3 separate regions of the Homo sapiens genome follow, and regions 2 and 3 are each linked to region 1. Evidence: fine-mapped expression QTL. Tissue or cell type: whole blood. Region 1 holds a variant in brackets; each other region holds the start of a gene. All regions are shown on one strand. Distances are from middle to middle.

Evidence for each region. PIP is the estimated chance that this variant, and not a neighbour inherited with it, causes the effect.
Region 2: LINC01093 starts here. The variant in region 1 is fine-mapped to the expression of LINC01093 in whole blood (TOPMed, PIP above 0.99).
Region 3: it holds the start of ACSL1, and the variant in region 1 is fine-mapped to the expression of ACSL1 in whole blood (TOPMed, PIP above 0.99).

Annotation. Positions count from the first base shown.
Region 1 is chr4:184,586,112-184,594,216 of GRCh38, reverse strand. The region is part of intron 1 of LINC02365 (long intergenic non-protein coding RNA 2365); the gene reads left to right. Among named protein-coding and RNA genes, the nearest start is that of LINC02365, 35 kb to the left of the region's middle. RefSeq lists a silencer at 4,668-4,962. The variant C/T (reference allele first, on the strand shown) is at 4,535.
Region 2 is chr4:184,895,430-184,903,534 of GRCh38, reverse strand. LINC01093 (long intergenic non-protein coding RNA 1093) reads left to right here and starts at 4,074. Exons shown (of 2, transcript NR_039977.1): 1 at 4,074-4,228. RefSeq lists an enhancer at 6,127-6,416.
Region 3 is chr4:184,820,925-184,829,029 of GRCh38, reverse strand. It overlaps ACSL1 (acyl-CoA synthetase long chain family member 1), which reads left to right and starts at 3,062. Exons shown (of 21, transcript NM_001995.5): 1 at 3,062-3,114. It overlaps LOC105377587 (a long non-coding RNA gene), which reads right to left and starts at 2,859. Exons shown (of 3, transcript XR_939564.4): 1 at 2,059-2,859. RefSeq lists enhancers at 1,884-2,163, 2,334-2,383, 1,990-2,493, 3,744-3,813 and a silencer at 2,614-3,573.

The sequences.
Region 1 (8,105 bases):
GCAGGCGGATCACCGAAGGTTGGGAGTTCGAGACCAGCCTGACCAACCTGGAGAAACCCTGTCTCTACTAAAAATACCAAATTACCCGGGTGTGGTGGCGCATGCCTGTAATCCCAGCTACTTGGGAGGCTGAGGCAGGAGAATCACTTGAAACTGGGAGACAGAGGTTGCAGTGAGCCGAGATCGTGGCATTGCACTCCAGCCTAGGCAACAAGAGCAAAACTCCGTCTAAAAAAAAAAAAAAGTTATATGTGGATTTTTGACTGTGTGGGAGTCAGTGCCCCTAATCTCTGTGTTGTTCAAGGGTCAACTATAGGTTGGAGAGTCAACTATAGGTTGAAAATTGGCAGGTCCCTATTCTTTGATGCATATGCTGATTTGTTAATTAAATCTCCGAATTTCTTGGCAATAAATTTAAAACATCGTATTTTTGTACTTTTCTTCTTGATTTTCTATTCAATTCCATTCTTTACTTACTTATCTGTCACCTCAGGATTCAGAAAGTAAGGAAGCAACAGCTGCTGCAGCTGAGGGAGCTGAGCTGGGATCACCACATGGTGCTGGGCGTGGGTATCAGCAAAGGAACAGGAGCCAGAGTTCTAGCAAGGATAGTTTTGGCCACAAACATAGCTCTAGGCAAGGAGAAACTACACAGACACACAGCAGAGTTGGGTACGGGGATGCCGGGGTAGAGTATGGTGTGGCCTGGGACTCCGAAACAAAGTGGAGAGAAATAGGAAGCAGCATTGAAACCTGGAAAATTCATGGGCTTTGGAGTCAGCAAGGTCAGGCTGTGAATCCTGACTTCCTCCACTCATTCGCTACATGACCTTGGGCCTTTTAGTTAACCTCAGTTTTCTTCTAAAATGATTATCATGACTAACCTCATTTCCATCCTTGCAGAACAGTTGTGAAGATTAAATATGTGTATGAAGCACACAGTTTAGCACTTAACAGGCAATCAGTTCTGTCCTGCTTTAAGGCTCATTTACTTCTCGCGGGATCCTCCACGGTTTCCATCAGATCCTTAGAGCTCATGAGGGTTGGATTCCCTGCCCTCCTATGTGCTAGTGCTGTGAGATTAAGGTGCAAACAGGTGCTGCAGAGAGCTGGGGGAACGCCCGCACTGAAAAATCCTTGCTGTGTTTCATTTGCTAGTGATGGGTGATGATTTACCCCACACACTTAAAACAAATTTAGCCTCTGACAGCTTTTGGGGCCTGAAGCCCAGGCCTGGTTTAGCTGGATCCTCTGTTCAGAGTCTCACTGTGTCCAGAATTGGTGGGTTCTTGGTCTCACTGACTTCAAGAATGAAGCCGCAGACCCTCGCGGTGAGTGTTACAGCTCTCAGGGTGGCGCGTCTGGAGTTGTTCATTCCTTCTGATGTTCGGATGTGTTCGTGGTCTCACTGGCTCAGGAGTGAAGCTGCAGACCTTCGCGGTGAGTGTTACAGCTCATAAAAGCAGTGTGGAGCCAAAGAGTGCGCAGTAGCAAGATTTATTGCAAAAAGCGAAAGAACAAAGCTTCCACAGTGGGGAAGGAGACCCCAGCGAGTTGCCACTGCTGGCTCGGGCAGCCTGCGTTTATTCTCTTACCTGGCCCCACCCACATCCTGCTGATTGGTAGAGCCCAGTGGTCTGTTTTGATAGGGCGCTGATTGGTGCGTTTACAATCCCTGAGCTAGACACAAAGGTTCTCCACGTCCTCATCAGATTAGTTAGATACAGAGTGTGGACACAAAGGTTCTCCAAGGCCCCACCAGAGCAGCTAGATACAGAGTGTCGATTGGTGCATTCACAAACCCTGAGCTAGACACAGGGTGCTGATTGGTGTATTTACAATCCCTGAGCTAGACATAAAGGTTCTCCACGTCCCCACCAGACTCAGGAGCCCAGCTGGCTTCACCCAGTGGATCCCGCACCAGGGCCGCAGGTGGAGCTGCCTGCCAGTCCCGGTGCCCTGCTCCCGCACTCCTCAGCCCTTGGGTGGTCGATGGGACTGGGCGCTGTGGAGCAGGGGGCGGCTCTCGTCGGGGAGGCTCGGGCAGCACAGGAGCCCACGGAGTCGGGGGGAGGCTCAGGCATGGCGGGCTGCGGGTCCCGAGCCCTGCCCGGCGGGAAGGCAGCTAAGGCCCGGCGAGAAATTGAGCACGGCAGCTGCTGGCCCAGGTGCTAAGCCCCTCACTGCCCGGGGCCGGTGGGGCCGGCCGGCCGCTCCGAGTGTGGGGTCGGCCGAGTTCACGCCCACCTGGAACTCCAGCTGGCCCGCAAGCACTGCGCACAGCCCGGGTTCCCGCCCGCGCCTCTCCCTCCACACCTCCCCGCAAGCTGAGGGAGCCGGCTCCAGCCTTGGCCAGCCCAGAAACGGGCTCCCACAGTGCAGCGGTGGGCTGAAGGGCTCCTCAAGTGCCATCCAAGTGGGATCCCAGGCAGAGGAGGTGCCGAGAGCGAGAGAGGGCTGTGAGGACTGCCAGCACGCTGTCACCTCTCATCACCACCTAAAATCAAGGTACTGGCTGGGCTCTGTGTGTGTGTGTGTTGTAGAGAAGGAGTCTCACTATGTTGTCCAGGCTGGTCTTGAACTCCTGGCCTCAAGCAATCCTCTCACCTCTGCCTCCCAAACGCCTGTGAAATCAGCTCTTGATTCACTTGGAAATTCACCAGATGAATTTTCTTCTTGCCAGACTTAAATATTCTACAGGGGTGAGCCACTGTGCCTGGCCCTACAGGGGTGAGCCAATGTACCTGTGCCCTACAGGGGTGAGCCACTGTGCCTGGCCTTGGGACTGTGTTCTCATCTGGAGGTTTGACTCCAAAATAAACTGTTTCCAAGTTCATAAAGGTTATTGGCAGGATTCATTTCCTTGTAGCGTGGGACTGAAGTCCCTCTGTTCTTTTCTGGCTGTTGGACAGGACCCATCGTAGCATCTGCAGGTCACCCTCACCCTTGCCACCTGGCCCCACACAGGCAGTTCAAAATGAGGCAATTTGCTTCTCAAAGCTCAGCAGGAGGATCTTGCTCACGTCAAACACCTGCTTCCTTCCAGGAAGGCCTGGACTCTTTTAAAAAGCTCACCTGATCAGGTCAAGCTCACTTAGGATCGTTTCCTTTTTAAAAAATTAACTCAAAGTAAATTGATTAGAGACCTTAGTTACATCTGCAAAACCTCTTCATTTCTGCCATACAGCCTCTGCCCCAATCCTGGGAGTGAGATCCCATCATACTGACACGTCCTGCCCACTTGCAGGGGGATGCAAGCACACCAGGAATGCCCACCAGGGTGCAGGGATTTGGGGGCTACCTCCAAATTCCACCTCCCAGACCTGCTTAGCCATGCCCAGGTCCAAGAAGACTGGGGGCCACGCCTTAACAACGCGTGAGGAACGCTGGGAAGATGCCTGGGAATCGGCTCCTGATTCACTTGGAAATTCACCAGGTGAATTTTCTTCTTGCCAGATTTACATTTTCTACAAAATCCCGGCAGAAATAATAGATGTCACACGCTGTAAGAATATCGTCTTTCTGGGAAACATTATGCCCCGAGAAAGCATCTCACCCTCCCAGACCCCTGCCCTTCCGTTTTCCCGACAGAACATCTTAAGTGGTCGTGTGCAGCCAGAGGAACACGGGGCACAGGGCCTGAGATCTAATTTTGGAAATCCCCTCCATCTAAATATGGGGAAACTGAGGCCCAGAACGGACCAAGCTCATGCAGCCCCTGCTCTGGGTCTCTTGTAGTGCTGCCTTGACTGAGATTTCCGTGGGCTGGTTGGGCCTGGCTGTCAGAGGAGAGAAGTATCAACTCATTAGGATTCCTAGCAACTGGGCAGCAGCTAGAAAATGGGAAACAGACTAGCCAGTGTGGATGGCTGGGACATTTTCCATGTAACATTAAAATTCCTGAATGACTACAGCTGTGAAGAGACATTGGTGAGAATTGTTTTCAAATTACTTGAAGTTGAATTAATTGAGAATTTCTTTAGTATAAAATCTTTATTTTTTTTTTTTGAGACAGGGTGTCCCTCTGTCACCCAGGCTGGGGTCCAGTGATGCAATCACAGCTTACTGCAGCCTCAACCTCCCAGACTCAGGCGATCTTCCTGCCTCAGCCTCCTGAATAGCTGGAACTACAGGTGCATGCCACCACCCTTGGCTATTTTTTTTTTTTGAAACGGAATCTTGCTCTGTTGCCCAGGCTAGAGGGTAGTGGCATGATCTCAGTTCACTGCAACTTCTGCCTCCTGGGTTCAAGCAATTCTCCTGCCTCAGCTTCCTGAGTAGCTGGGGTTACAGGCACGCACCACCACGCCCAGCTAATTTTTGTATTTTTAGTAGAGACGGGGTTTCACCATGTTGGCCAGGCTGGTCTTGAACTCCTGACTTCAGGTGATCTGCCCACCTTGGCCTCCCAGAGTGCTGGGACCACAGGCATGAGCCACTGCACCCAGCCGCCTAGCTATTTTTTAAAAAGATTACTTGTAGAGATGGGGTCTCACTATGTTGCCCCGGCTGGTCTTGATCTCCCATGCTCAAG[C/T]GATCCTTCTGCCTCAGCCTTCCAAAATGCTAGGATTACAGGTATGAGCCACTGCACCTAGCTCCCTTTTTTCTCATTTGTAATAGAAAAATAAATTTTGTATTTGTATTAATAATGTCCATGAGGCGTGCCACATTTTGAAGGTAAGTAGCTTACAAAGCCTCTCAAGGTCTATTTGAATTAAAACGGCTACAAAATTATCTTGCTTGTTATTCTCTGTGCAGATGGCTGACATCAGATAGCTCTGCTTGTCTTCACTGCCCTCACCCCTCCAAATGATGTCTACATCTCTTTTAGGCTAAGCTTTTTAGTGAAACTTGATAGCATGAGTTTTCTCTTAGGGAAGACGCCCCCGTGATGACTGAGTAGGGTTAGACTTGAGAAAGAATTGTGGGATTCGAAACTGAGATTTTAAAAGTCAGATGGGAAGAGCGGCTCTTGGCGTGTGCAGGGTAGATCCCATAACCCGTCCTAGCCCAGGTCTCCAGTGCGTGGGAATAGAAAGAGTGAAACGGTGTTACTGTGCACTCATTTTAGTAAGTGGTGCCTTTGGCTGAGCTGAGCACTGGAACCATGCTGGCTTCAGAGGGATTCTCAGTGGTGCTGGGACCAGAGCCAGACCCCAAGGATATGAAGGCATCAGAATTCTCATGCGCTGTTGTTGGGAATGCAAAATTGGGCAGCCACTTGGGAATTCAGTTTGGTGGTTAAGTTAAACATGCACTTACTGAATGAGCCAGCCATTCTACTCCTAGCTATTCAAGAGAAATAAAAGTATATATCTACGAGACTTGAACATGAATGTTTAAAGCACCATATTCATAATAGCACAAAAAGAAAACAACACAAATGTCCACTCAGGGGAAAATGGACAAACGAATTGAGGTATAGTCATACAATGGAATAGCATTCACCAATCAAAAAGGACGAACTACTAATACACAGAATGTGGATGGATATCCGAACTATGCTGCTGAATGAAAGAGACCCAAGAGTACATACTCTATTATTTCATTTATTTAGAAGTTCATTTATATGAAGGCAAAAACCAAGCCAAAGCAAGAGAAATCAGATGAATGCTTGCCTGGGGCAGGGATTAGGAGTGTCTCAGCTATAACGAGGCACAGGGAGATTGGAGGGGTCAGGAAAGTGTCCTATATCTTGGTGGTGGTAATAGCTACACAGGTGTATACATTTGTTAAGACTCATGAAACTAATCTTAAATGAGTGCATTTTATTATATGTAAAGTATCCATTATTGTATGAATATCAAACCCCAATAACGTTGATTTTTAAAAATGAACCAGATACGGAGTTTCCACTGGAGAAAACCCTGACGTAGATCACTCTGTGTGTCTCTAGAGACAACTGAAACTGATGCCGTGTTTCTCACCTCCAGTGAAATTCCTATTTAATTGATACAAAAATACTACAAGGACCAAAATGGAGCATGTGCTTTTCTATTCTTCCTGCTGAGTGTAGCTAGAAAGCCTAGACATTGTTTATAAGACAAATATCAGAAGACTCTGAAAGTGGATGCAGCAAGGAAGGCTATGTAGGGACCTGGGAACCCAGGGCATGACACGGCAGTGAGTGAGCCACTGAGTTTTCTTTTTGTCTCACGTATCTTGGGTTGGACACTGGAGAAGCTGGCAACCCAGAAACACCAATGGGCATGGATTAAAAAAAGAAAAAAGCCAAAGAAAGCCTGCTATGTCTAGCTAAGGACCAGGAAACAGGCAGCCTGGCAAGATGGAAAACTTTTAGACAATAACCACGCTACTCCAGCCAAACACCACAAAAAAAACAAAAAACAAAAACAAAAAAACCCTTGGCTCCACTTCTGCCCTGTCAGCAAAGACACCCCCAAGCAACAGAGCTTGTTCTCCCTGAAGTGGGTACTGTTTTTTCTAAGAAAAATTAACATTTTTCAATTACACTGGCTATGCTTTGAGGTAATTCATGGCTAATGACAATAATAAAATAGTAACGGTGCCTTCTTCTGGGGGAGCTAATATATCCAAATTGTCCTTATAAGACTCCTTCTGTAACGACTATATTGCTAGCTCTCCAATCCAAGTCTTTGCTATTCCACATTCTCAGATTGGACCCTAGATTTAAAGAAAAAAATAACCAGTCTTCTCTGACAACCCCAAGTTCGGGGGGGGGATGGGAAATACTTAGTAAACTGTCAGGCTAACTTAGTATCCAAATTCTGTTTGGCACTACTTAGATGGTCATTTGGCAATGCCAAAGGGTTTACTTGCCCTTCTCACTAATTTAAGTTGTGGCCTGGCACACATGAACGAAGATGGGATTCTGAGAATAATTACGTGTGATTAAGAAGCTCCATCGTTTTTCTGGTGTGGCCCAACAGGACTGGGCCAGCTGCCCTATTTTTCAGATCCACAGAGCGAGAAAAATTTAAAGACAAAGAAGGCAGCTCATCCTTCTCCTTAAAGGAAATTTCTAGTTATTCAGATTTAACCTACTCAAATAAAAATGTTATTCTTACAAATGTATGCTTTAGTAATTGTATCTTTTCAGGATGAATAGAAGCAACTCATACACAAATATCTGTCAGTTAATGCTGTCAAAGACTATTCTGGGTTGGAAATACCTTGTCATTAAAAGTGAATAGGCCAGGAAAAAGAAAAGAAGGTAGAAAAAAAAAAAAAAAAGTGAATAGGCTGGGCGTGGTGGTGTAGGCCTGGAGGATCGCTGGAGACTCCAGAGACCCTGTGTCAGGAAGAAAAAAAAAAAAAAAAAAAAATGGTGTGGGGGAGTGCTCCTTGTAGGACAGTGTGAACAGGGTTATTTATTTATTTATTTATTTATTTATTTATTTATTTATTTTTGAGTCTGAGTTTCACTCTTGTCACCCAGGCTGGAGTGCAGTGGCGTGATCTTGGCTCACTGCAACCTCTGCCTCCCGGTCTCAAGTGATTCTCCTGCCTCAAGTGATTCTCCTGCCTCAGCCTGCCGAGTAGCTGTGATTACAAGTGTGTGCCTCCATGCCCGGCTAGTTTTTGTATTTTTAGTAGAGATGGGCTTTCACCACACTGGCCAGGCTGGTCACGAACTCCTGACCTCAGGTGATCCACCAGCCTCAGCCTCCCAAAGTGCTGGGATTACAGACGTGAGCCACCGTGCCTGGCCGTGAACAGGGTTTTTAAAGCCCTATAGCATCAACAATGCTTCCACTATCCACATCATCCAGGAAAATATCCAAATGGCATTTTGAGAAATAAACTTGCCACGATATGTCTTCAGATGAACCCTGCCCATAGCTCTCATGAATATGAAATTTACAGCTTTAAAGGTTAGCACTCTCGGCCAGGCGCAGTGGCTCACACTTGCAATTCCAGCACTGTGGGAGGCTGAGGTGGGCGGATCACGAGGTCAGGAGTTGGAGACCAGCCTGACCAACATGGTGAAACCCCATCTCTGCTAAAGATACAAAAAATTAGCTGGGCGTGGTGGTGCGCACCTGTAATCCCAGCTACTCAGGAGGCTGAGGCAGGAGAATTGCTTGAACCCAGGAGATGGAGGTTGCAGTGAGCCAAGATCG
Region 2 (8,105 bases), 310 kb before region 1:
ATTTTGTGTTTATAAGCTATAGCTCCTTCCAAATTCTGATGAAAATAGCGATGAAGACAAAAAGAGAATGCTGTCTGACAAGTTGCAGGTGAGAAAAACTGAGTGCAGCAAAGTCCCCAGCGGAGCCGCTGAGGGATTGTGCAGACAAGAGATGCTGTTCTTCACACTCCTGGATTGGTATCCACGGTCCTGCCTCTGCTGGGGCCGTGAGCAAGCGTGGGACGGTGAGCATTGCCAGGAGCATCTGCGGTGCTTTCTGCAACTTCTCTCCCACCTTGCCTCCTTGCGCTGAGGCTCTCTGGCACTTTCAGAGACCAGCAGCTGCTGAAATGTCCTGTTCTAAGAGGACCTGTTCACAAGTGGCTGTGTAGGCCGATGCCAGAGGTGGTGATAGTTGACAAAGTTCTAGACTCAGCCCTGCCACTACCACTCAGTGATTTTAGGGAACTGCAGGCCTTGCCATGCCTCCGTTTTCTCAACAGCCAAATGAGGATAACAATACCTGTTCTTCCTTCGTATGAAACAACTATGAAAGACAAATGTGACAATGGCAACGGCATCACTTGATGGTTACAAGTGTTGCCTATTTTCCAAAACCCATTATTACATCCTCTGGTAACAGAAGTGGAGAATTATGAATAGCGATTTATTCATTGTAAGTTAAAAAATGTCTCATACTCTTTTCTTTCTTCTAACAGATGATTCATACCTCACCTCTATCACTACCTATCTTCATGTTTCTCTTTCTGGTATGAGGTCTTGTGCATTAGCCTAATAGTTATCTAATTCCTGGGCCAAAGATCTAAGGTTGGAGGTCAGTGGAACAAATTCAGCTTGCCAACAAAATTGGTTTCAACTCACATGGTGTGGCTGTTATGTTTCAAAACTTGAACTAGCAGAAAACAAAAATTCAGATTTCCAGCTTCGTTCAAAATTTCAAAAATCTGGTTCCACTCCTATATGGCAAGAGTTAGCTGGTGTAGAATGGCAGCTACCCCCTTTAGGTAGGGCACATGAGCTTGAGTTTTCCGCAGTCACCATCATTCCCTATTGCAGCCCTCTCACTGATGCCAAGTGTTCATTGTAGTTTCTCATCTATACTTGCAAATCCATTCTGTTCTTTTAAATTGCCTGACCTCCCCCTGCCCCAGAGTCTTTTAAATCTGTCATCTCCTATTTTTAAAAGTGTCAGATTCATGTACTGGCCAGTGAACCCAAAAGCCTATGTTCTTAGGTGGCACTAAGAACGGGTGGTACCCCAGTGCTCTTTACTGTTTGAGTTGGCTCAGGAACTAGGATTTGTAGGCCCGAAGGACTAATCGGTCTTTAAGACTCAGCTCTGAGATCTCCTCAGATATCCTGGTTGTATAACACAATATACATGTTGGTTGTGTCTATGAGTTGACAGGGCTCTAAAGCATTCATCACACGAATGTCTTTGAGGCCAATGCTGTCCTAGGAGTTTCTCGAATCTTGCTTGGTTTCCTTGTCTGTATCACCACTGATCATAATGAATGCCCTCGTCTTACCCCTGGAAAATTGCATCAGTGGTTTTGGTCTTTTTGTCTCATCTCTTTCTTCTCCAGTCCACTACTTTACTGGAACCAAAGTTAATCTTCCTGGGTTCCAGTAAAATATAATCTGCTCTCTCCTTCATTTATAAACCCCAAATCATTCCTAAAGAATGAAGTCCAAGGTCCCTATGAAAGACCGTCCTCCATCTAACCCTAAACCACTGCTCTGTCCCATCTTCCTCATACCCTGGCTTCCTCCCAGTTCTCCACATGCACCATGGCCTGCCCAGCGGGGCAGCCTGCACCATCCAGCACCTTAGTTTAGAGTGTGCTACGGTAGCCCTCAGACCTCTGCATTTCAAAGGTCAGTACCTTTTTTAAAAAATGTGGGAAACGTGATGTTTTTATTAGGCTAAGTAAGAGAGAATGTAAATGATAACATAGATGGTATCATCTATATTCAGCTTGATTTCATAAGAGAAAGAAAAACAGCAACCCTCCAAAAGTAGAAAGTACATCATCCGAAACCTAAGTTCCTTTCAATTGGATAAATTTAGCTTTTTGAAAAGCTTCCTACCTGGTCTTTATTTTTCTCATGTCCTTTCAGACCAGTGAAAACGTAACCACTGGCATCTGTCCTGGGCTTGCTTTTGAGACACACGAACCTATCCATCTTTTTCATTCTAGAAAATTCTCACCCATCCTTCAAGATCAGTTCTTGAGTGAAGTATTTGCTGACTCCTGAGGCAGAGGTAGTCGCTATCCCTTTGTGTATCTCCTTGTTACGACAAAACATATATCGATTTTTGATGGTGATTTCTTGGTCACATGGAACATGGAATCACTAAAGCCCCTTCAAAATCCTCTTAAGCTGGCCGGGCAGAGGGGTTCACACCTGGAATCCCAGCACTTTGGGAGGCCGAGGCCATGGATCACTGGAGGTTAGGAGTTCAAGACCAGCCTGACCAACATGGTGAAACCCCCGTCTCTACTAAAAATACAAAAATTAGTTGGGCATGATGGCAGTTGCCTGTAATCCCAGCTACTTGGGAGGCTGAGGCAGGAGAATCGCTTGACCCCAGGAGGTGGAGGTTGCAGAAAGCTGAGATTGCACCACTGCACTCCAGCCTGGGTGACAGAGCCAGACTCTGTCTCAAAAAAAAAAAAAAAAAAAAAATCCTCGGGCGGTGGGCAGTGGCTCGTGCCTGTAATCCCAGCACTTTGGAAGGCCGAGGAGGGCAGATCACCTGAGGTCAGGAGTTCGAGACCAGCCTGACCAACATGGTGAAACCCCATCTCTACTAAAAATACAAAAATTAGCCAGGCATGGTGGCACGTGCCTGTAATCCCAGCCACTCAGGAGGCTGAGGCAGGAAAATGGCTTGAACCTGGGAGGCAGAGGTTGCAGTGAGCCGAGATTGCACCACTGCACTCCAGCCTGGGCGACAGAGTGAAACCCCATCTCAAAAAATAAAAAAATCCTCTTAAATAGCCTCTCTTCTCCCACATTTCCATTCCCTATGGCAGCTGCTCTTCCCTCTATTTCTCTTTAAAAAACATCTTTGGGCCAGGCACAGTGGCTCATGCCTGTAATTCCAGCACTTTGGGAGGCTGAAGTAGGTGAATCACTTGACCCCAGTAGGAGGAGTTTGTAGTGAGCCGAGATTGCACCACTACACTCTAGCCTGGGCAACAGAGCAAGATCCGTCTCAAAACAAAAACAAAAACAAAAAAAGCAAAACGTCTTCAGCCCTTCTGGGCACACTTCTACGTCCCCGCTACCCAAAACTGCACTGGTGCACTGGAAGAGAGTTCAGTGAAAGCTACATCTGTCCTCAGCCCAAACGATAAGCCACGGTGCCTGAGCCATGCCCTCATCCAGCATGACAGTGAGCTTTCTAGCCGAAGTCTGTGGTCCCAAGTCAACGATGAGGGACTCATAGCAGAAAGATCTGAGGCCTTGCACATACGCACGTTTTAAAAACAATGAAACAATGAATAAAAGTTCTGTAGTGACGGCCAGTAGTGACAGTCCATGAGGGGACATCCTGGTACTTTCCCCTGTTTCATACTTTTCCTGTTACTATAACCATAGTCTCTACCTTCTCTAGAAAGATGACTAAAACATGTTTAGGACACCTGGGCAGCTGTACTGAGATACCAGCATGTGGCAATCCAGCCATTATGGGAGCTGCACTACTAAAGCACAGGTGCGTCCTGCCCATTCTTAAGCCCAATTAGGAGGCAGGGGTCTTTGATGGTGGAACAGAGTGGACCCTGCTGTGCATGATGTACCCAGGCTGTGTCAACTGCATTTGTGGCTTGTCCCATGACCCTTTGGCCCATGCTGCTGTGAGGGTGGCTGTTGGTCAGGGTTGAGAGGCCAGAGAGGAGTGGGCAGGCAGCTTCAGGCCCCACGTTGGTGTTGGCCTGGGCACCTGTTGGATCAACACAATAACTGTACCCTGGAGTTCCTGGAAGCTGCCTTCTGCTCAGCCAGGCCTGCTTGTGGGCGGAGCCCATGCCAGCTACATGTGTCAAGGAAGCCACAGCTTGGCTAGTGAGCAATGCAATTCTGGGAATGTTCAGGCTCTCTCTGTTCTTTCCTCTCTTGCAAACCATGGGCACCCTTGGGTCCCTTGGGGTCACTATGTTACACCTGCTTTTTATCTGTCTGGGCAAGAGCTGCTCAAGCCACACCTTGTGACACTGAGGTAAGAGCAGAACGTTGCAGAGTGTGCAGGCTGGAGTGTGTGCTAAGGCTCTGTGTGCTGATTACTCCTTGTGTGTCTCATTGCTTACAGGATTTTTTTTTTTGAGACAGGGTCTCACTGTGTCACCCAGGCTGGAGTGCAGTGGTGTGAACATAGCTCACTGCAGCCTCGGACTCCTGACCTCAAGCAATCCTCCCGCCTTAGCCTTCCAGGTGCTTGAGATGAGAAACAGACTTTTTTTCCTTTGAGAATTCATTATTTCTCCCCTTGGGCTGTTTGTTCAAACCCACACAGGAGCAGGAACATTGCTTTCGATTGCCAAAGAAATGACATAATGATGCCAATGATTAAAATGTCAAGAACACAGTGTCTTGGGCTGAGATGGTAAAGGCAGCATTCAGGCAGTGATGATCTGGGGTGATAGGAGTGGCTGTGGGGAGACGGAGGCCTCCCTTCTTGTAGGATGGGACTCGGTCTTTCCTCTGCCTCATTGCTATTATTGTCTTGTTTTATTTTTGCTTTTGTTTGTTTGGGTAGGTGAAAAGGCAGGTCGGGTGAAGAAGAGCAGGATGTTTCATTTTTATCAAGCATCACCTGATTCAAAATGTAGCCACTGAAAAGAAGCCATCGTTTTTGGCCTGCGTCTCTGAGGATAAGATAGTGCGTGGGTGATGGATGCAGCCCAGGTGGGAGCTGTCTGCAAATAACCCAGCTGCTTCCTGTGGCCCTGGTCATCCTGCTGCCCTCAGCTTCTCCCACGGAGGCCACCTGCCCCCCTAACACTGAGCTGCTCACCTAGTCCAGCCACCAGCGACGGCCCCTGGCCTTTGACGTGTCTGTTCTCTCCTCTCTCACTCCACCACCACTAGCTTCCAGGGATCTCCAGCCTGTATAGAAACTTCTCACTACGCTCTGCTCTCGCCCTTTTAGCAGTCTCCTTATGCTGCTGACTCCACCTCCCAGGCAAATCATTCTAATTTAATTCTTTACAAGTATTCTCCCTCCTGGAGTGCTGGGCTCCACCACGGGGGCAATCAAGGCACATCACCCACAGCTTTCCAGACACCCACAGCCTTCCTGTCCTGCTGTGAGCGTGGCTCCTTCAGCCTTCTTCCTTCTTCGCCTGTGGGGAGTCAGACATTCGCCAACCTCGTGCTCAATCCCTGCCTCTGTCCAGGCCTGCTAAGCCCATAAGACATATCTGCATGTGTCAGAATATGTGCAAGCTTTCGACAGGATCCCCGTTTCTCCCCATGGAGCTTTTGGCAAATGAAGGGTGTGGTTCAGCAGCTGGTCTGATGTCCCTTAAGCTCCCCCACACCAGCACACCAGGACTGTCTCTGTCTCCACATTCCAGCATATCTGGGTCTCAGCTTTGACACAATCAGACACTGTTGCTGAAGTTTTTATGTTTATATGACAGAAGAAACTGTCACCCCTCCCCTGCCCCCCGCCCCCACCCACCTGTTATAAGAAAGAGCTCCAAGGTCTTGAGACCACACGCAGGGGATGGGAAAGCTGACATTAAAGGGGAATGAGGTCTTTCTGTGATTCCAGCAGCCTCAGGAGGACAACGTCAGAAACCAAAAGCTCCTCTGCCCAGGGATGGGGACCCGCCGACTTCAAGGGCAGAACAGGTGCCTGGCTAGTGGGGGAGTTCCCCAATGTGGATTTAAACTGTAGTGTCTTCAGAGAACATAACCAACATTTGTCTTTAGGAGATGTGTTTGTTTGAGTAGATCAGCTATGAAAATACCCAGCCGGCCTGCAGCCCTCCCGGCAGATGCTGAAAAGGAAACCCGACTGGGAGATGCCGCCCACCCTTATCCCCAGAGAGCTGCGTTGTTTCCTCTTGCCTTGGCCTTTGGATCCGGCCATAGCAAGCATCCCTGGGCACCTGGCTGAAGCTGGAAACTCGGGATAAGAATGGAAGCCCTGGAAGGGAAGAAGAACCGAGGAGTGAGCTTGCCCTGTGAGGAGGGGTGGAGCTCTTCAGAGGTTGGGGGTGAACTTACGAGACACCTGAGGAAATGGAGGCTGTGCTGGAATAGGGGAGCCTGGATGAAAATCAGAGAATGAGAAGGCTGGGTTCAGAAGGGTGGGAAAGTCCCCGGGCGTCCCCCTCGAGGGGGATGAGGTCATCCAAGGCCACGAGGAGGACCAAGCCTTTAGGCAGAACCTTAGTATTTACCCTCCTGTGTTGTAATTCTGCCTCATTGTGGCTTTCTAAAATTGCGGAAAGATGTACATAAGAGTTACCATTTTAGCCATTTTCAAGTATACAATTCAGTGGCAGTAAGCACATTCACGATGTTGTGCAACCATTACCCCACTGATTTCCAGAACATTTCATCATTCCAAACACAAACTCCGTACCCATTAAGCAATATTCCCCTTTCCCCCAACCCCTGCAGCCCCTGGCGACCTCTGCTCTACTTTTTCTCTTTGAATTTGACTACTCTAGGTATCTCAGATACTCAGGTAAAGGGAATCATATAATGTTTTTCCTTTTGTATTTGGCTTATTTCACTTAGCATGTTTTCAAGGTTCATTCACGGTGTAGAATATATCCAAATGGCATTCCTTTTAAAGGCTGAATAGTATTCCATTTTATGTAGATGCTACCTGACAGTCAATGAATGGGCTCGCTGCCATATGTGCATAGAAACCCATACTGTGGCTTTTTTTTTTTTTTTTTTTTGGAGTCAGTGTCTTGCTCTGTCGCTCAGGCTGGAGTGCAGTGGCATGATCTCGGCTCATTGCAACCTCCACCTCACAGGGTTTAAGCGATTCTCATGCCTCAGCCTCTCAAGTAGCTGGGACTACAGAGGCACACCATCATGCCTGGGTAATTTTTATATTTTTAGTAGAGACGGGGTTTCGCCATGTTGGCCAGGCTGGTCTCACACTCTGACCTCAGGTGATCCACCCACCTCAGCCTCCCAAAGTGCTGGGATTACAGGCCTGAGCCACCACACCTGGCCTGATTTACAGTATTTGAAATCAAATCCGTCCTCAGCGTTTCTCCAAGGGGATCAGAGCAGGGCACTCAGCAACATGCTTCCTTTAGGTGTGTTGCAGAAGCTTAGCTACTGACATGACGCTCTCTCCTGTTGCATTTAAAACTGGAAACAACTGAAATGGTCAGCAACATGAGACGGCTGGGGAAATCATGGTCCATTTCTATCAGCCTTCACCAATAATGTCCTTCAAGATTTTTCAGTGAGATGGTCAAAGATCTCATGATATAAAATTGAATACAAAAAAAGCAGATGACAAAAGACATATACAATGTTATACATTTGTAATACATCTTAATACATCTCTTTCCTACACACACACACACACACACACACACACACACACACACACATATATATATATATATATACATGCAGGAAATGATAGTGCATTGTGGTGAGATATATGTATATATATAAAAGCAGGAAAGAGATGTGTGAAGTATAGTTTGTCTCTGGAAGATGGGGTGAGGAATAGTTTTTATCTTTTCTACATTTTTCATAATTTTTTTACAGTAAGCATACATTATTTGCATAATCAGAAAAAAAGCACTATACATGTGGAAATGGCAGGTATGCATGCATACATCCAGCACTATTCCATCTGGCCAGAGAATCCTGTGTCATCTCCTCACATTCATCTCTGGGTGGTCACCCATGTCAGGACCGTGACTGGCCCATGAAAGAGCCAAAAAGAATCCTCAGAAAATATCTACTCACTAAATTCTCTGCATGACCTAGTCTCAGGAAGGAAAGGGTGGAATCTTGTTACCATATTAGCAAGAGTGGCTGTGCACATGCTTTCAGGGAAGAACTTCCCTATTATGACACTATTTTTAAAAACAGGCTTTCCCGTG
Region 3 (8,105 bases), 230 kb before region 1:
GGCGGGTGGATCACGAAGTCAGGAGATCGAGACCATCCTGGCTAACACAATGAAACCCCATCTCTACTAAAAATACAAAAAACTAGCCGGGTGTGGTGGTGGGTGCCTGTGGTCCCAGCTACTTGGGAGGCTGAGGCAGGAAAATGGCATGAACCCAGGAGGTAGAGATTGCAGTGAGCCGAGATCGCACCACTGCACCCCAGCCTGGGCAACAGAGTGAGACTCCGTCTCAAAAAAAGAGACTGGTTTCTTACCTAAGTCACAAACTCCCAACTATAGAGTCTGGAATCTTCATTTAATGAGAACGCCAAGGGCGTGGCTGTCAATCCTATGACACCTGTCTGAGGTAGGTATTATTCCTGATTTAAGGAGGATGCAATGAGGCTTGATGTGGATTCACCCACCCCAAAGCCTGTGTTCTTAACCACTATGCAATACTGCCTCCCATCAAAGTCTCTATCTCAAGTCCACAAGACAACCCCATACATTGTAAAACTTTTTGGAGTGATTAGATAAAAACTTTTTTGTTTTTTTTTAAGTGTGTGTGCTGAAAGAGACCTAAGAGATTATTTAGCCAAGCCCCCTTATAGCCTGAGGAGAAATCTAGGTTCTAAGGAATGAAGTTGCTTCCCAATGTCACCTAGAAGTTCCTGCCAGAAGGAGTGTGAACTCAGGTCTGATACTGGGTTGTGTGCCTTTCCCAGCCTTGAGTTGGAAATCACCTCATTAAGGGCTAGAGCCCAGGGAGAGGCACCCAGTTTAAAAGAAAAGTGTCTTGAGGAGAAGACGTAAGGTGAGACAGCCAGTGACGACCATCCACATGTTACGGGTTGAATTGTCACCCCCACATTCCCCAAGTTCATATGTTCAGGGGTTTGTTGTTGTTGTTGTTGTTGTTTTGAGACAGAGTCTTGCTCTGTCTCCCAGGCTGGAATGCAGTGGCGTGATCTTGGCTCATTGCAACCTCCACCTCCCTGGGTTCAAACAATTCTTCTGCCTCAGCCTCCCGAGTAGCTGGGACTACAGGTACGCACCACCATGCCCCGCTAATTTTTTTATTTTTAGTAGAGACAGGGTTTCACCATGTTGGCCAGGCTGGTCTTGAACTCCTGACCTCAGTTGATCTGCCTGCCTCGGCCTCCCAAAGTGCTGGGATTACAGGCATGAACCACCGTGCCTGGGCATTCAGGTATCTTAGAATGGGACCTTACTTGGACATTACCTCATGATTACAGAGGTCATCAAGTTAAAATGAGGCAATTCGGGTGGGCCCTAGTCCAGTATGACTGGTGTCCTTATAGAAAGAAGGGATTTGCACACACACACCACAGGGAAGATGGTGTGAGGAGACATAGGGAGAAGATGGGCATCTGCAAGTCAGAGTGGCCGGGCACACATGCTCTTTCATGGGCCTCGGAAGCAGCCAGCCCTCCCACGCCGTGATTTTGTACTTCTAGTCTCCAGAACCAGGACAGACCATACATTTCGGTTGTTGAAGCCACTTAGTGTGTGGTACTTCGTTCCAGCAGCCCTTGAAAACAATAGACCACAGAACTTGGGAGGTGCCTGCAGAGGTTCTGGGGCTGAGGGACCGGTTGGAGAAGAGGAAAAAGGAGAGGCAAAGATGACAAAATCACGGATGGGGAGGCGAGATCTGGACAGAAAAACCAGGGATTAGCCAAGCGGGAACCAGTGAAAACGAACGTGGAGTCCATTTTTTCTAGATCTGGAAGATGGAGATCTAAAAGGACTGAGCTGCTAGAGAGGTTGCTGGTGTGTGCGTTGTCCTCACCCCACTGCACCACTGCGCCCAGCACACTGTGGGAGACACCCAGGGAAAGTCCTTCAGTTATTTGTGGGAGTGAACTGCAGTGTGGCTGAGGCCTGGAGCGAACCACGGTCAGTTTCCCCTGCCTGCAGCCCAGGCATAGCCCTGCGTTGGTTGTGCCCACACTCTGGGGGCAGCCTGAGTGCCAAGTGTGGTACTGCTCTCACTAGCATTTAACCTCTGTGCCCCAGCTTCCTCTTCTGTGAAAGGACAGTAATGACAGTACCTACCTCACTGGGTTATGAAGATTAAATAGAATAATGTGTACGCAGTGTTTGTAGCAATGCCTGGCATCAAGCACTGGGTAAACAGTATCTATTATTATCAAAGGCCTTTACGACAACAATCATTCTTCAAACGGCCCTCCAGCGAACGCTGGGCGCAAACTCCACGGTAACGGGGACCAATGTTGTTAGAGGTTGAGGTTCCTGGTAGGTCCCAGGTGCTAAAAGGAAGAGCAGCCTTTGGGATGTGAGCCCGAAAACCATCGTGTTGGCTTCTGAAGCCCCAAGATGGGCATGGCAGGGACGCGGAAGCCCTCAGAACCGCGGAAGCCCTCAGAACCGCACAGCAGGTGGCCGCCGTGGTGCAGCGCGCAGTCGGCCCTCAGCTCCCCTGCACCGGCGCGAGCTGCGGGCGCTGCCCACGTCAGGCTCTGCAGACACCAGACAGAAAAGGTCTTCCGGCCAGGGAGCGTGGGGGAAACCCTGTGGGGCCGCGCCCGTCAGTGTCAAGGAAAAACGGAGAGGAAGGCCCTTGCCTCCAGGGCCCTCGCAGCAGAATTCTGCCCGGCCTGCCAGGAGGCCAGCGGGGCACGGGCTGAGGGTGCAGGATCCGGAGGGCGCCGCCCGCCCCTCGGGCATCGCGGGGCCCAGGGTCCGCGGGGCCTCTGAGCTGAGGCGGTCCAATGTACCCTTTGTCCTTCCTCAGATTCATTATGAAATCCGAGGCAGTCTGGGCGACTCCAGCGGCGTTCGCCCGCCGCAGCCTCTCGACCGCCGGCCACCCGCCAGCCACGCGCGCCCAGACAGGAGGGCGGCCGGGCGCTCGGCGGGGCGGGGCCTGCCGGGGGCGGGGCCTGCGGGCGGGGCGGGGCCGCGGGAGGGCGGGGCCGGCGCGGCGAGCGCACCAGCAGCATCCTGGCTCAGCCGCGGCGGTGGCGGGGGCGCAACCAGCGGGCCGAGGCGGCGGCGCCAGCGGCGCCTTAAATAGCATCCAGAGCCGGCGCGGGGCAGGGAGTGGGCTGCAGTGACAGCCGGCGGCGGAGCGGCCGGTCCACGGAGGAGGTGAGTGCGCCCGCCGTGCGGAGCCGCGCCTGCTCCCGCGGCGGTGCCCGGGCCCCGGCCGAGGCGCCGGCTGACGTTGCCCTTCAGGGCCGAGCCCGGAGCAGCGGCCGCCGCGGAGGCGCGTGAGCCACCCCAGGCTCGTGGGGCCGCGCCGCCTTTCCGGCCTCCTGCCCGCGGCCCCGCTTCCCTCGGCAGCCGGAGGCCTCCGGGGTGCCCGTGCTGCCGCAGCTTCCTGTGTCTGAGTCGCGGGCGGCGCGGGCGCGGGGCTGGTGCGCGGCCGGGGATGCGCGCGGGACCGACCCTTGTGTGTGCGGCGGCGGGGACCGGCCCGGCGAAGCAGCCGGAGGCCGCGCTTCGGCTGGGAGGAGGTGGCCCAGCTGGGCCGCTGACGTTGCCCTCGTCCGCGGCCCCCGCCTGCCCAGAGGCCGGGCTCGCGGGCGTTCGGACCGCGCGTGGGGCGAGACTGCACTCGCGCCCGCTGAGATGCCGGCCCCACGCAGCGCGGCGGCACGAGGCCCACAGGCAGCTCAGAGGCCGCTGCCAGAGGCAGACATTCTCTCGGTGACTCCAGAGGAGTGCCCGTGGCCCTTGCACTTGGCCGTGGAGTCATTGATCTAAGGAGTGCTGGCATTTTTTGAAATTGAGAAGCAAAGATGATGTCTGTCACCTGGCAGCGTAGACGGAGAGTGGCGGTAGATGACTTGAATGGACACGTGGATTCGAGTCTGGGGACAGGCGTTCCCCCAGTCGGTGCGTTGTGAGAGTGTGGAAACCCCTTCCCCACTCAGTCCAATTTCAAGGTTATGGAGCATAATTAAGAGTGACCATTCTAAAAGCGTTCTCTAGTGCCCTGGCTAAGACTTTTAAGCTTCTTGGTGCAGGAGTGTCTAAAGTCCCGCGACTCTCACTGCCCTGTCTTTTATTTTCTTGACCTTTGATTAGCGTTGAGAGAAACTGGTTAAATCTTGCAGTTTCTGCCACCCATTTCACAACTTAACCTGTGATTGTCCCAAAGAAAACAATTATTGGCTTCTTGCTAGCAAAAAAATCAAAGGCTTCCGGTTGATTGTTTCTTTCTTTTTTTTCTTTTTTCAAGTGGACGTGGAAGGTTAGGCTGGCTAAAACTTAAAGTTTGAGTTGTAGGTCTGTGCTGGGTAGGCTTGAGAAGATGGAGCTTTTTAAGGAACCATTGCTCGCCATCAGATTGGAGCCAGACAGTGCAGTGTGATATAGTGGAAAAGGACCAGGTCTTGGGAGACTTACTTTCTTGTTCTGACTCAACTCGGAAAACACCTCCCTAGTCTGAGGCCCCCCTCCTTATATTTGTGAACAAACTGCATTAGACTAAAATCTTTCACGAGTCCAAATTCTGCGACTAGAAAAATAAACTTGTTAGCCGCACACCTTATACCTCTCCCCTTTAAAACAGACATATTAAAGACTTCTGTTTTCTGAATTTACTGTAAACAGAATACTTAAAAAAAAATTACCCAGACAGGCGTGGTGGCTCACTGTAATCCCAGCACTTTGGGAGACCGAGGCGGGCAGATCATTTGAGGTCAGGAGTTCGAGACCAGCCTGACCAACATGGAGAAACCCTATCTCTACTAAAAATACAAATAATTAGCCAGGCGTGGTGGCATGCATCTCTAGTCCCAGCTACTCGAGAGGCTGAGCCAGGAGAATCGCTTGAACTCAGGAGGCAGAAGTTGTGATGAGCTGAGATCCCGCCACTGCACTCCAGACTGGGCAACAGAGCAGGACTCTGTAAAAAACAAAACAAAACAAAAAATTACCCTTCCCCACAATTATAAGCATTTTGGCATATTTCCTTCCTGTCTCTGTTGTTCCTATTTTGGCAGTATTTTTATTGTTATCGCAGGCAGCCTGACTGAAAAGAAATCTGGGCTTCTAAGTTTTTGGTATTTAGGAGGTAGATACAAGTGACCCATGCATGTAGGGTTAGGTATCTATTTATACCATGCAGGTAGAGTTTTCATAGCCACCTCTACTTTTGGGTGAAGTTTAGGCTAACTGAAAGTGTACCAGCATGCATGGTGTATGCAGAAAAATGAACGTAATTCAGATTATGTGATAGTTTTCTCTTGTTGCCATTATATATAACCCAGGGCTTACCACAAACTGAAATTTCTTATGCATTGACATTTAGCATTTGATGTAAAATGACTATCTCAGAGTTGCTGCCACAAACACTGGTAAAACTGTCCCTACTTTCTAGCATGCTTAATGTCTAGGTCTTGCTACATCTTTTTTGATGTAACTGTTTTGTGGAAAATGGTTGTGTGTTTGGGGAGGCTTTTGAGAAAAGATAAGGTTGTCTTGTCATTATAACTGGGTATTTCTCCTCTCTCCCTTCCAGTTTCACTTGTCTGGAAATAGCAAGACTATAGGAGTAGTAATTTCTAGATATTTATAGTCAGTAACCTTAGAGGAATGTTTAGTTTTTAAGATCAATTGAATTTATTGTGTAAGTTTGCCATTTAAAACAGGTGCCCATTTGTGTTTACTGTCTCTTGTAACCAAACTCTGTTCAATTAGAATCCATTAGTAATGTTTTGTGGAGAGTCTTGTTTGGATGATGCAGTGCATGAGGCTCCTGTACTACAAAATAGAAAAGAAGTTCCTCTAAGGCAGCTCAAAGCTGTTGATATCCTGAAGCCTTTTTAGGCCTCCCTCTCTGACAGGCGGTGATCTGACAGGAGGTAGATAAAGGTGCCGGAGTTTTTAGTGAAGGTTGGCAGTCCAACTTGGTAGTCAGACAAACACATGATGGTCAAAAGTGCCTTTGACACTGGGGCCTGGAGAAGAATTCTCAGTGGCCAGAGCTGATCTGAAGCTGCAGGCAGTTGAGTTTGAGTTTCAACATGTTGGTACTTCAAGGGGCTTCTGAAAAGTTTTAAAGGAGCACAAGCCCTGAAGGAGTAGCTGAACTTAGTGAACTGGAGAAGGCAGGGGCAGTTTTACCAGGGTTTGTGGCAGCGACTCTAAGATTGTCATTTTACATCAAATGCTGAATGTCAATGCATAAGAAATTTCAGTTTGTGGCAAGCCTTGGGTTGTATATAATGGCAAGAAGAGAAAACTATCACATAATCTGAGTTATGTTCATTTTCTACATCATGACATTTTCACTTTCTTTTTTTTTTCTTTTTTCCCAGATAAGGTCTCACTCTGTCGCCCAGGTTGGAGTACAGGCATGATCATGGCTCGTTGCAGCCTCTCCACCTCCCTGGGCTCAGTTGATCCTCCCACTTCAGCCTCTCCAGTAGCTTAGACTACAGGCGCACATCACTATGCCCAGCTAATTTTTGTATTTTTTTCGTAGTGAAGCGGTTTTGCCATATTGCCCAGTTGTCTCGAACTCCTGGGCTCAAGCGATTTGCCCTCCTTGGCCTCCCCAAAGTGCTAGGATTACAGGCGTGAGCCACTGCACCCAGCCCACTTTCATGTTCTTGACTGTGTTAGAAACAACACAGTATTGATTCACTTATGACCTTTGAGGAATCAAGAGGGGCGGGTGAAATATTGGAGACTCCTTGAAGTGTGGCTGGCTTGGAGGGTGTCACCCTTGGACAAAAACTTAAGTGGAGGTGAGTAAGGGCCCTGCTCCCCTGTGCTGCCTGCCTTAGAAGGATGTGATCATCTGGAGGCAAATAGCTTGTTGCTTGAGGCCAGGAGTTCAAGACCAGCCTGGGCAACAGAGCAAGACCCCATCTCTAGAAAAAAAAAAGTAAAAACAATAAAATAAAATCTCAAAACTGGTGGTTCCATATAGGTGCCTGGGCTGATTCTCTTTATGAATTATTTGCTGGTCTTCAAGTTTAAATAAAATTCTGAAAGCTGTCTAATATCTAAAAACCACTTGCCACAGAAAAGCTGTATTTGTTTTTCATATTTTAAGAGTCATACATACTTACTGGAGAAAATTTGGGAAATAGGAAAAATGAAGCTCTTCCAGAGATTAAATACTATTAACATTTTGTTATATTTCCTTCCAGTCTTTTTTCCCTATACAATAAACAAATTTTAAGCATACATTGTTAATTAAAGATTACAATTTTGACAATTTAACTTTATCACCTAAGTTATATTGTGGGCTTTTTTACACGTTGTTACATATTCTTCAAAAAATAAGTTCTGAAGATGACTGCATTATTTGCTGTATGGGCCATAATTTAGTTACTTCTCCCCATTTGTTGGATATTTTTCAGAACAGTTTACCAACCTTTGTTATATGTTTAAATACGTCTTTAAAAAATAAAAAATGTTCTGCTTTAAAACTCTTGAAATTAACAATAATTTGAAAAGTGTTTTTACTAATGAATAGGTTTAATGGACTTTTGGGTTCATGTATTCTAGTCAAAAGCAGTTGAAATAGGGATTTCATGGTTTGGAAAGAGAAATGGAAAGAAGTTAGGGCATCAGAGGAGGAAACGGGGCCTGCCTGTAGACCATTTCCTCATTCTGGAGGGGACTTCTGATAAATGTAGGCTCTATCCATTAGCACAGCTTTGGCTGCTATAGAAATGGGCACTTTCCCCTTAGGTTTGTTGTGGGAGAAATGTCCATATAAGAAGGACTGAAACACTCTGAATACTATTTATTCCTTTATTAAGCAGAGTCATGAGAAAGTGCTTCCGGAGCTAGTTTCTCCTTCAGGGTCCAGGTGTCTGCCACAAAGCAGGGCTGTGGTAGCTGACCGAGGTGGTAGCCACAGCCTGGACACGGCCAGGCTTAGGAACAGAGCAGTGATGAGAGCAGCAGACAGAGCCAGGTGCTGCTAAGCTTCTGATGGGTTAACTCATTAGTACCTTCAGCAACCCTGTAAGGTAGGTCCTGCTGCTATCCTTACTGTACACAAGATAAAGGAACAGGTGCAAAGATTAAGTTCCCCATACCAGAATTTGAACCTAGGCAGTCTGGCTTCAGGGTCTGTGCTCCTAATTGCTGGGCTCTACTGCCCCTCCAGA